Linked DNA regions of Homo sapiens. The protein of the gene in region 1 purifies or fractionates together with the protein of each later gene. This does not show direct contact. Each region holds a gene or a part of one and is shown in the gene's direction. Other genes may lie near its edges.

Region 1 (3,652 bases):
GTGATGGGGACAGTCGATTGGATCCTTTCTGTTCTTGGCTTGATGCACCGAGACCCATGAGACCCATACCTCGAGAAGGAGAGGATACCCGACTGTTGGCTACTTTGAATCCCTTTAGGGTTTGAGAGCAGCCCAAATGCTCACATTGTTATTCTGAGAAGCAGGAAGGAAAGGGGCAGAGGTTCTTTGTCCGTCTAAGGACAGTGTTGGAAGGACTGGCTTATGTCCCCTCTCTGCAGAAACACATTCACCTGGTCTTCCATCCCCCTTACTCATTGCTCATGTCTGCATTTTGTTGTTACCCACTTTAAGAACAGAACATTTAAAAAACTGATTGGAAACCATACAGGTGGGGCTTTGTCAGTTACACGTGCCCATCAGCTCTTTGGTTTTGAGGATGTGTGTGTGCATGTGATTCTGTGTAGGTTTTTTTGTTTTGTTTTGTTTTGTTTTGAGATGGAGTTTTTGCTCTTGCTGCACTGGCTGGAGTGCAATGGCGCTATCTCGGCTCACTGCAACCTCTGCCTCCACCTCCCAGGTTCAAGCAGTTCTCCTGCCTCAGCCTCCTGAGTAGCTGGGATTACAGGCATGCGCCACCACGCCAACTAGTTTTGTATTTTTAGTAGAGACGGGATTTCTCCATGTAGGTCAGGCTGGTCTCAAACTCCCGACCTCAGGTGATCCGCCCGCCTCAGCCTCCGAAAGTGCTGGGATTACAGGCATGAGTCACCGCACCGGGGCAGTTCTGTAGTTTTATCACATGAAGATTCGAGTCACCACCGCTGCAATTGAGATAAAACTCACCACCATCTCTCCCCTGCTGCCCCTCCATGGCCTCACCCACCCCCTTCCCCCTTGTATTGCTTTTTGTTTCCTGTTATCCTGGGAATTTATATAAACCTCTGTTTCAGTGTCGAGTTCAGTATTAGCACAGGTTCACAGTGAGTAACCTTCCACGTACATATGTGTGTAGTGTCCCCACTACCCGTTCAAACAGAGCAGCCTTTTCTAGTGTTAGGAACTAAGGATTTTTGTGCCACCTAAGAAATAAAACGTTAGCATTTTTTCTAACAACACGTCCTAAGGCTGGACCCTGCCTATGGGATATCAGGTCAGAATATTCAGGGGAGTATCCTCACGTATGTTTCTGTAGACTTAATCCAGGGTATGCCTCAGTGTGGCCACATTTCATCTTGTAAAGACAGCAATTACATTGTTTTGGGATTCCAGAATATTATCTGGTTATGAATAATATATGCTGGGTTATTGGGGCAAGATAAGAATAGTTAAGGGGTCAAAAGTGTACATAAAAATAGAATATATTGTTGGTATGGATAACTCTTTAATTTTTTAAAATTGAACTGAAAATTCCTAATTGGAAACATTGTTGCTCTCTGTCTTTACAATTCTCTGCAGGTTGAGTGAACCCAACATGGCTTCCATCAGTGGGCAGCTGGAGGAACTGTACATGGCCCACAGCAGAAAGGACATGAATGACACCCTGACCTCCGCTCTCATGGGTGCCTGCGTCACTGCCTCGGCCATGCCCAGCAGACTGATGATGGAGCATGTTCTCTTAGTCAGCATCCTTCACCACACAGTTGGAATCGAGGTACAGTTGTACCTTTTCTCCAGGCTGTCACTAGTGTCTCATGGTGATTATTTTAATGATAGGCTTGATAAGTGCGTAATTGTGTGCTGTGGGTGGTTCTTGTGTCGATTCCTTTTTGTTGTGAATAAATACTCTATTGTCTATGTCATGTAGTTGTAAAGAGCATTCAGGAAGTACTTGATTACTTGATTTTGCTTAACTTTGCTTTTTTGTTCTGTCCATTCTTTTTTTTTTTTTTTTTTTTGAGACAGGGTCTCGCTCTGTCGTCTAGGCTGGAGTGCAGTGGCACGATCACAGCTGCAGACTCGAGTGATCCTCCCACCTCATCCTCCAGAGTAGCTGGAACTGCAGGCGCACACCACCAGGCCTGGCTAATTGTTTTGGTGGGAGCAGAAGTGGAGTCTCACTCTGTTGCCCAGGCTGGTGTCAAATTCCTGGGCTCCAGTGATCCTCCTGCTTTGGCGTCCCAATGTGTTGGGATTACAGGCGGGAGCTGCCATGCCCAGCCCTGTTCTGTCCAGCCTAGCATGTCTTTTATGTTAGTTAATTTTCTTCTCGACTGACATCTCAGACGTGCCTTCATTTCCTTTGCACTTCTCCCTTAACACTGATTTATTTCAGATGTTTGGAAGATAATGGTTGGTGTGGTCTCACTACTGAGGTGTTGGTATTGATGGGAGATGTGAGAGCACTGGGGCATGGAACTGCCTGGACATGTTCAGGGAGACCTGGTGCCCTTTCTGTGTCATGGCCCTTTCTCATCAGTGAAGTGGGCTTTTGTTGGGATTGAACTGAACAGTGTACAGAAAGCATCTGGCACCCGACAGGTGCTAAGTAAATGTCCACCCCACCCCCACATCCCTTTCGTATTCTTCTTGCTCCACAACCCTTGTGGTTAAAGTCAGAGAGGCTCTTTGGTGATGGCCTTGGTTCCACAGTCACTGCCCTCTTCTGGGCCTGTTCTCTCTTAATTGAATACAGGAAAGTCATAACACTCCCAGTCAGTATCCCAGTTCCCCCAAGGTAGCTGATTTCAGATGTGTTGAAGTAAATCCGTCCAACTAAAGGAGATTGTTGTGAGGTTGGTGAACGAATGGAGGGTTGGGTCAGTGAGGCTTAGTTTTCCCGTGATACAGTATTTACATGCAAATGCAGTGTTTAACCCATTTGGATCTTTAAATGATAGTCTCTTTTAATGGTGGTTCTCTTAGTTTTTTGCCTTCTGACAGCTCTACTCCAAAAAATAGGCCACAGCAGCACAGCATCCCTAAAAGTCTAATTACCTGGTGTACGTTTATATACTTTCGTCTCCTCCTCACCTTTAATCCTAAAGTGTCCCGGTGAGATCAGGGCAGACCTTTACTGAAGCTTGCTTTGCAGTGCAGCAGGCAAAGCCGCTGAAGCGCTATGTGAAATTCCCAAGATCACGTCTTGTTAAAAGTACACAGAACTTGTTTTCTGGGCTCCTAGGCAAGCATGCTTTCTACTGCAATGCTAGTCACATTCATTTCATTTTTATATTACTTTCTCTCAATTATAATCTTAACAGTTATTTAGAGTCTTACCAAGTGGGGCTCTCCAAAGCTTGCTTTAAGATGCACATATTTGCCGGCCGGGCGCGGTGGCTCACTCGTGTAATCCCAGCACTTTGGGAGGCCGAGGCGGGTGGATCACGAGGTCAGGAGATCGAGACCAGCCTGGCCAAAAAGGTGAAACCCCGTCTCTACTAAAAATACAAAAAAAAATTAGCCAGGCATGGTGGCGGGCGCCTGAAGTCCCAGCTACTCCGGAGACTGAGGCAGGAGAATGGCGTGAACCCAGCAGGCGGAGTTTGCAGTGAGCCGAGATCGCGTCACTGCACTCCAGCCTGGGTGACAGAGCGAGACTCAGTCTCAAAAAAAAAAAAAAGATGCACGGATTTGCCAAAATGAAGTAGCCTTCTTGTCACTGGGGCTTCTGTGCTGAAGGCGGCATGGGGTGGGTGGAGATGCTGCCTGAGTACAAAACATGCTGTAACGCGCACGGTCTGTGTCACTTAGA
Region 2 (3,652 bases), on another chromosome or scaffold:
ATTACAGGCACCCGCTATCATGCCCAGCTAATTTTTGTATTTTTATTAGAGACCATGTTGGCTAGACTGGTCTTGAACTCCTGACCTCATGATCCGCCCACCTTGGCCTCACAAAGTGCTGGGATTACAGGTGTGAGCCACTGCGTCCGGTCCTGTCTCTGTTTTTATCTGAAATTATGTTAGCCTTTGCCTAGTTATGGTGAATTAACCTTAGCATATGATAGTTCTCTTAATGTTTCCCACCACCCTTTTCAGAGTAAGCAATTTGACGTCTACAGCTTCTTTTCCTTTATCTCTTTGGGTAAATAGCAACCAATTTTTCCTGCTACTTTAGATAGTAGGCAATAACAAAATGTATTCATAGCTCTCAGTAATATTTGTTCTATTGTTTTGTTTTTGAGGTGAAAGGGGGGACCCTACCCTCAGAACATGAGGGAATAATATTTACGTGGCTCACAAAGACCAGTGAGTACATCATATGCATCTCTCACAACTCCCCAGAAGAGGGCCTCCAGCACGAGTCTAGGCTCAGCCTTTTCTGTCCCTCCGAGAACTCTATGAATTGCTGCCAAGTGTTTTAATTTTCCTCAGAATTTCTTTGTAATGTTATTGAGGGTTGGAGGTCCTTTTACAAATTTTGGAAATAAGTAAATCAAATGAGAAGACCATGCTTCCAAACAATCATTCTGTTTAACAGATCCCCTTGATTTAATGCAATTATGAATGCGTTAGTGGTAGTGTAGTTTAAGATCTTTCCCTTGAATGTACAGGCTTTAAAGAAACGAACCTAGGAGTGTATTTCCTATCAAGCAAATGGGTTCTAAGACTTTACGCTTTACACATCATTGATTATAGCGCTGTGCTTTTCCCGTGCTAGGCAATGGATCACTTGGAGTCCTTTATTGCTGAATGTGATCGGAGAACTGAGCTCGCCAAGAAGCGGCTGGCAGAAACACAGGAGGAAATCAGTGCGGAAGTTTCTGCAAAGGTATGCTTGGGTGGCTTCGGTGTCTGGTGTGTTCTTAAAAATACTGGCTTGTCAATAGCTTTTTTTTTTGAGATGGAGTCTCCCTCTGTCACCCAGGCTGGAGTGCAGTGGCATGATCTCAGCTCAGTGCAAGCTCCGCCTCCCGGGTTCATGCCATTCTCCTGCCTCAGCCTCCCGAGTAGCTGGGACTGCAGACGCCCGCCACCATGCCCGGCTAATTTTTTGTATTTTTAGTAGAGACGGGGTTTCACCGTGTTAGCCGGTATGGTCTTGATCTCCTGACCTCGTGATCTGCCTGCCTCAGCCTCCCAAAGTGCTGGGATTACAGGCGTGAGCCACCGCGCCCGGCGTTGTCAATAGCTATTAACTGACCCTCAGCACTGATTGTGTGGACAGTACTCTCTGCCTTACTCCAGTTAAGGATAGAGGGCTGTGATCAAGCATTCATGTGTCATGGAATTCTCATCCCTCAGGAGCTGCTACCTCTGTCTTTTTATTCTCTCCATTTTCGTCCTCTGTACATGGTTTATCATTATTTTTTAATTTTAATATATTCTTCGCTGAGTTTGGTGGCTTATGCTTGTAGTCCCAGCACTTTGGGACACCAAGGTGGGGGCAGACTGCTTGAGCCCAGGAGTTTTAGACCTGAGCAACATGAAGAAACCCCATCTCTACAAAAAATACATATATTAGCCAGGCTTGGTGGTGCACATGTGTATCCCAGTTACTCAGGAGGCTGAGGTGGGAGGATCACTTGAGCTTGGGGAGATTGAGGCTTCAATGAGCTGTGATCATGCTACTTTGCTTCAGCCTGGATAACAGAGTGAGACCCTGCCTCAAAAGAAAAAAAAATTATTGTCGGTTTTTTTTTTTTTTTAAGAGACAGAGTCTTGTTCTGTCGCCCAGGCTGGAGGGCAGTGGCGTGATCTCGACTCACTGCAAGCTCCGCCTCCTGGGTTTACGCCATTCTCCTGCCTCAGCCTCCTGAGTAGCTGGGACTACAGGTGCCCACCACCACGCCCAGCTAATTTTTTGTATTTTTAGTAGAGACGGGGTTTCACTGTGTTAGCCAGGATGGTCTCGATCTCTTGACCTCGTGATCTGCCCGCCTCGTTTTCCCAAAGTACTGGGATTACAGGCATGAGCCACTGCACCCAGCCATCTTTTTTTTTTTTTTTTTTTTTTTTAATAAAGATGGAGTCTGTTGCCCAAGCTGGTCTGGAACTCTTGGGCTTAAGCAATCCTCCCGCCTTGTCCTCCCGAAGTGCTGGGATTACAGGTGTGAGCCAGCATGCCCAGCCTCTGCATGTTGTTTTAAACTTTAATATCTCCACATAAAACTGGAAAGAATTGGTAAGGAAATGGTCAAACTGTGGTACATCCATATCATAGAATGAAAAGGAGGTAGATTTATATGTAATTAGACTGAGTGCCATTTACATCACTCTTCTGTTTTTCTCTTCAGTGGAACTAAGCCTCTCCTTGTTTTTTCTTTTCAGTGTTGTAAAAGCATTTCTTAGGATTTATGCAATTGCTAATTTGACCAACGGTGCTATTTTGTTTCAGAAGGTAAATCCTAGTAATTAGGTATTTTGGTTACAGCTTAAATCTGTACATTTAAACCTAGGCATTTTATTACCATACCCAGAAGAAAAAGTCATAAAGAGAGACAGCCTAGACAATGACCAATCTGTGATGATCCTTGGAAGCATGTCGGAAGTGACAAAGGTGCCACTGGTTTCATTGGAACATAGGACTCGTTTATGGTTACAGTCTCAATGCTGGCAGTAAGGATGCCTTCATTGTTAAGTGTGGATCTTTAGCTCTTCCACTTATTTTCAGACTGGAAATGGAGCAGGAGAAACCCTTGTTGCCTTTGCATTCACTTTCATTTTCAGATGTCTGCTTACCTCATTCTTTCTCCTCACAGGCAGAAAAAGTACATGAGTTAAATGAAGAAATAGGAAAACTCCTTGCTAAAGCCGAACAGCTAGGGGCTGAAGGTAATGTGGATGAATCCCAGAAGATTCTTATGGAAGTGGAAAAAGTTCGTGCGAAGAAAAAAGAAGCTGAGGTTGGTGAGATAAGTGCCTTAGGGCAAGAGAAATCTTAGTAATTTGGCAGCGTTGACCGTTGGAATTAATTGAGCCCATGCTTGCTCCCATTTTTTAAAAAATTTATACATTTTGGGCCCAGCACAGTGGCTCACGCCTGTCATCCCAGCACTTTGGAAGGCCGAGGCGGGCGGATCACGAGGTCAGGAGATAAGACCATCCTGGCTAACACAGCGAATCCCCGTCTCTACTAAAAATACAAAAAAATTAGCCGGGCATGGCGCCAGGCACCTGTAGTCCCAGCTGCTCCGGAGGCTGAGGAAGGAGAATGGCGTGAACCCGGGAGGCGGAGCTTGCAGTGAGCTGAGATTGCGCCACTGCACTCCAGCCTGGGCGACAGAGCGAGACTCTGTCTCAAAAAAATTTATAAACGCTGTTTTTGCAAGCAGTTTTAGCTTCATAGCTAAATTGAGAGGAAAGTACAGAGATTCTCCATGTACCCTCTCCTCAGACAGCCTCCTCCATTCCTAGCATCTGCCCACAGTCAGTGGGTCTACGTTGACTTGTCATTATCACCCAAAGTCTGCAGAAAATGTTAGGTATGTCATGA
Region 3 (3,652 bases), on another chromosome or scaffold:
TGTTTACTAACTAGTTGCTGTTACATTTTAAATGTAATGTTGAACATTTGTGTTAACAGCTTAACTGTCAGGGGCAGGTTTGATGGTGTAGGTGGTATTTCTTTGAACAGTTTGCAGATATTCTGCTTTTGTATAATTACCCCATGCAGTAATTTGATTTGCATTTCTTGACTGCAGAGAGAAAATATCTTATATCTACACTAATAAAATTTTGTTTTTGGCTTTGTTTTTCTAGATGTTGGAGAAGAGCATCAGTCTCCAGGTGGCATTAGGTAAAAAAAACATTAATATTTCATTTTTAAACCTTTGGGGACATAGCATAGTCACAGTAAATGATTCAGAAGTTGCTTCCATTTGAAATTATTTTGAGCTGTAAGAGAAATTAACTTCAGTTTTGATACTGCATTTAGATTCCATGTTGAGCTTGATTAGAACTTAAACCATGTAATCTACTTACATAGCTTAGAAATCATGTCTTGAGTATCTTCTGTGTTTGGACTTATTCCATGGTAGGCACTAATGTGAAATATGGGTGTTTTGGCCAAGGTTTTGAGATTTTATTGGAATCTTTTGTGTTGTGATTTATCTGTTAGTAGGTCTTTTAATATAGCAGATCACCAGACAGTATTACAAAGTCAGTTGTTTCTTAACTTTTAATGCCATTGAGTTGTCATCACCCTGTCTTTATCTAGGATTTATGTCTTTTTAGTTTCAATTATTATTCTTTGTGATAAAACAGCTAGATTTCAGTCCAATTAGGTCATTAGGATGAAAATGCTAGATGACTTTATCAGTGTTTGGCTACCTCTTAAAAAATTACCAAATAAAATCCCCTCAGACATGTTCGCTACAACCAGAATGTCTCATTTCTATTTACTTATTTTTAGTAGTGAAGAGGAAGAGGAGGAGGAAGAAGAGATGTTAATCAGTGAAGAGGAGATACCATTCAAAGATGATCCAAGAGATGAGACCTACAAACCCCACTTAGAAAGGCATGTCTCAGATTTTACTGCAGACATGTTAATGAAATATAAGTAGGAAAGCACTGTTGCATGCTTTTATTTTATCTGTTGCCAAGCTAATGGGTATAGAATTAATTTTAAATGAGTAATTAATTATGCACTTCTTTTGTAAGTCTAACACCTTAATATACCCTGATAATAATCCTCTTTCCCATTTGTAGAACTTTATTTTGATTATATACAAGTTTTTATGAGTCTGCATGTTTTATTTCAACAAGGTATCATGAATTGCCTGAATACTTAGAATTTTTTAACTAATTGTCTCGTTTCTCTTTACAATTATAGTGAAATTTGATTTACAGGCATCTTTAGTCTGGGGAGGGTTCATTCCATGAGCAACATATACATATATTTGGATCATTACTATGCATGTGAGGATGATTGGTAGGAAATCACATTTCATGAACTGAGGAAGGTAGTTTTATAACAAATCAGTGATAACTCTAAGCTTTAATTTGTTGTCATAGTCTTCCTTGAAAAGATCTTTTGTCTAGTATTGAAATGCATTTGTGTTTTCAGGGAAACCCCAAAGCCACGGAGAAAATCAGGGAAGGTAAAAGAAGAGAAGGAGAAGAAGGAAATTAAAGTGGAAGTAGAGGTGGAGGTGAAAGAAGAGGAGAATGAAATTAGAGAGGATGAGGAACCTCCAAGGAAGTGAGTAGGCAATTATTAAAAATGAAAATCTAACAGATTTTGAACGACTAGTGGAAAAAAGAGTGGGAGTGTGAGGAAGGATGTTGACGTATACATGCTTCAAAATATGTATTTTTTAACTTAAAAAAATTTGGCCTCAAGCAGCTGACAATTTCACTGGAGAGACTCTTAGTAAAAAAATGTTTAGGTTTTTCAGTTCTATTGCAAGGAGAAGGTATTTTTTAATCTTAGTGTTTTTAGATGATACATGGTAGCAACTCTAAAAGTAATACATTGAGATTCTTCTAAGTCTTTCATAGTATTGCATAGTTTATGGAAGGTATATATTTAATCTGTCTTACAGACTGATTTGAAAGTGAAATTACTTCAGGGTAAAATTACTTGCTTGATTTGCCAGATATATCTTTGACTTTATGTATTCTTGGTTATCCTTTGCCACTTGTTCTTTGGCCGTGTGTGTGTGTGTGTGTCTTCAGCCAGCCTTCACTGTGTAGTTTTGATTCAGAATATGTCTACTGTTACCCTGTCTTCAATTACAGGAGAGGAAGAAGACGAAAAGATGACAAAAGTCCACGTTTACCCAAAAGGAGGTGAGGAATTTTTACCCCTACTGTTTTACACCTTATTCCAGTACCAGGCACTTTACTCACAAATTTAGACTTCATGATAATCCTGCAGGAATGGCTATTTAAAAATTTCACAAAAGCAACTTCACTAATGTCCTAGATGCACAGGTGTTATGATCTTATTTTCATTGTAAGAGCTTGAAATTTCTAACAATCTTAATACTTTACCTTTGGGGGGTCATTAGTTTATTTGTGTTACTTTTTAATTCTGTCAAATATTTGCTAATTCTTGGTTACTTCTAATACAAATTCTGTGTAATCTGTATAGTAGTAAAGAGATTTTAATTCTTCCTACTATAAAATAGCTATTCCCAATAGCACAGTTTAAGTCAGAGGCCACTGTGCAGAGTACCACTTTTTTTTTTTTGCTAACTTTTCTTCTGCATTTTGATAATAGAAAAAAGCCTCCAATCCAGTATGTCCGTTGTGAGATGGAAGGATGTGGAACTGTCCTTGCCCATCCTCGCTATTTGCAGGTCAGTGAAGTTGTTATATAAGAGCCTTTCAGGTTGTGTTCCATTACTTGTTCTTGCACCACGAGACTTTAATTTGTTGGCTTGTGTAGGCTTTATCATTGACATGTAATGTCAAGAAAAGTCTTTCTTTAAACATAAAATGACTTTAACCCATTTATGCCTAGTGTTCCATTATTAGAATGCTAAGCTTGGGCAAGTTATTTATATCCTACTGTTCAAGGTCATCACCAAGGTCTGATTTTTCACAAAAATACATTTGCAACCTCCAGCATAAATGGGTTAATCATGATTAGTCCATTTGTGCTGCTATAATAGAGTACCTGAGACTGGGTAATTTACAAAGAACATATATTTATTTATTAGCTTGTGGTTCTGGAGACTGGAAAGTCCAAAAGCATGGTGCCCACATCTCACAAGAGCCTTTTAACTGTGTCAGCCCATGGTGGAAGGGCAAGAATGGGTTGAACTTGCTTTTGTAACAAATCTACTCCAATGATAATATCAACCCATTTATATAAGGGTAGAGCCTTTAAGACCTAAGCACCTCCCATTAGGTCCCGCCTTCCAACACTATCACATTGGGGATTAAGTTTCCAACACATGAACTGTGGTGAACACATCCAAATTCATAGCACCTCCTGTTTAAAAAGAGGTGACTAAGAATCTGAACCCACATAGAGAACTTTCGTTGGAATCTTTCAATATTACAGTAATTCCCAATGTGGTGTAAATACAGAGTAACATTTTATTTTAAAGTGATTTAGAAAAAAAGTAAAATTAGAACTCAAACCTGTGATTTCTTGGGTACTGTGTAGAATGAATAAAAGACTTTTAGTTGAGGTTTTGTTTTTATTTTTCTTGAGTAGATTATTAT

Evidence for each region.
Region 2: the proteins of NOM1 (region 1) and LUC7L purify together in Homo sapiens (affinity purification with mass spectrometry; one large-scale study listed by BioGRID and IntAct). This does not show direct contact.
Region 3: the proteins of NOM1 (region 1) and ZFP91 purify together in Homo sapiens (affinity purification with mass spectrometry; one large-scale study listed by BioGRID and IntAct). This does not show direct contact.

The regions. Positions count from the first base shown.
Region 1 is NC_000007.14:156,952,687-156,956,338, forward strand, and holds part of NOM1 (nucleolar MIF4G domain-containing protein 1), read left to right. Parts: intron 1-1,416; coding exon 1,417-1,612; intron 1,613-3,652. UniProt on the Homo sapiens protein: Plays a role in targeting PPP1CA to the nucleolus.
Region 2 is NC_000016.10:205,414-209,065, reverse strand, and holds part of LUC7L (putative RNA-binding protein Luc7-like 1), read left to right. Parts: intron 1-401; exon of another isoform or gene 402-465; intron 466-877; coding exon 878-988; intron 989-2,918; coding exon 2,919-3,062; intron 3,063-3,652. UniProt on the Homo sapiens protein: May bind to RNA via its Arg/Ser-rich domain.
Region 3 is NC_000011.10:58,610,063-58,613,714, forward strand, and holds part of ZFP91 (E3 ubiquitin-protein ligase ZFP91), read left to right. Parts: intron 1-235; coding exon 236-272; intron 273-887; coding exon 888-992; intron 993-1,541; coding exon 1,542-1,676; intron 1,677-2,215; coding exon 2,216-2,266; intron 2,267-2,699; coding exon 2,700-2,778; intron 2,779-3,652. UniProt on the Homo sapiens protein: Atypical E3 ubiquitin-protein ligase that mediates 'Lys-63'-linked ubiquitination of MAP3K14/NIK, leading to stabilize and activate MAP3K14/NIK. It thereby acts as an activator of the non-canonical NF-kappa-B2/NFKB2 pathway.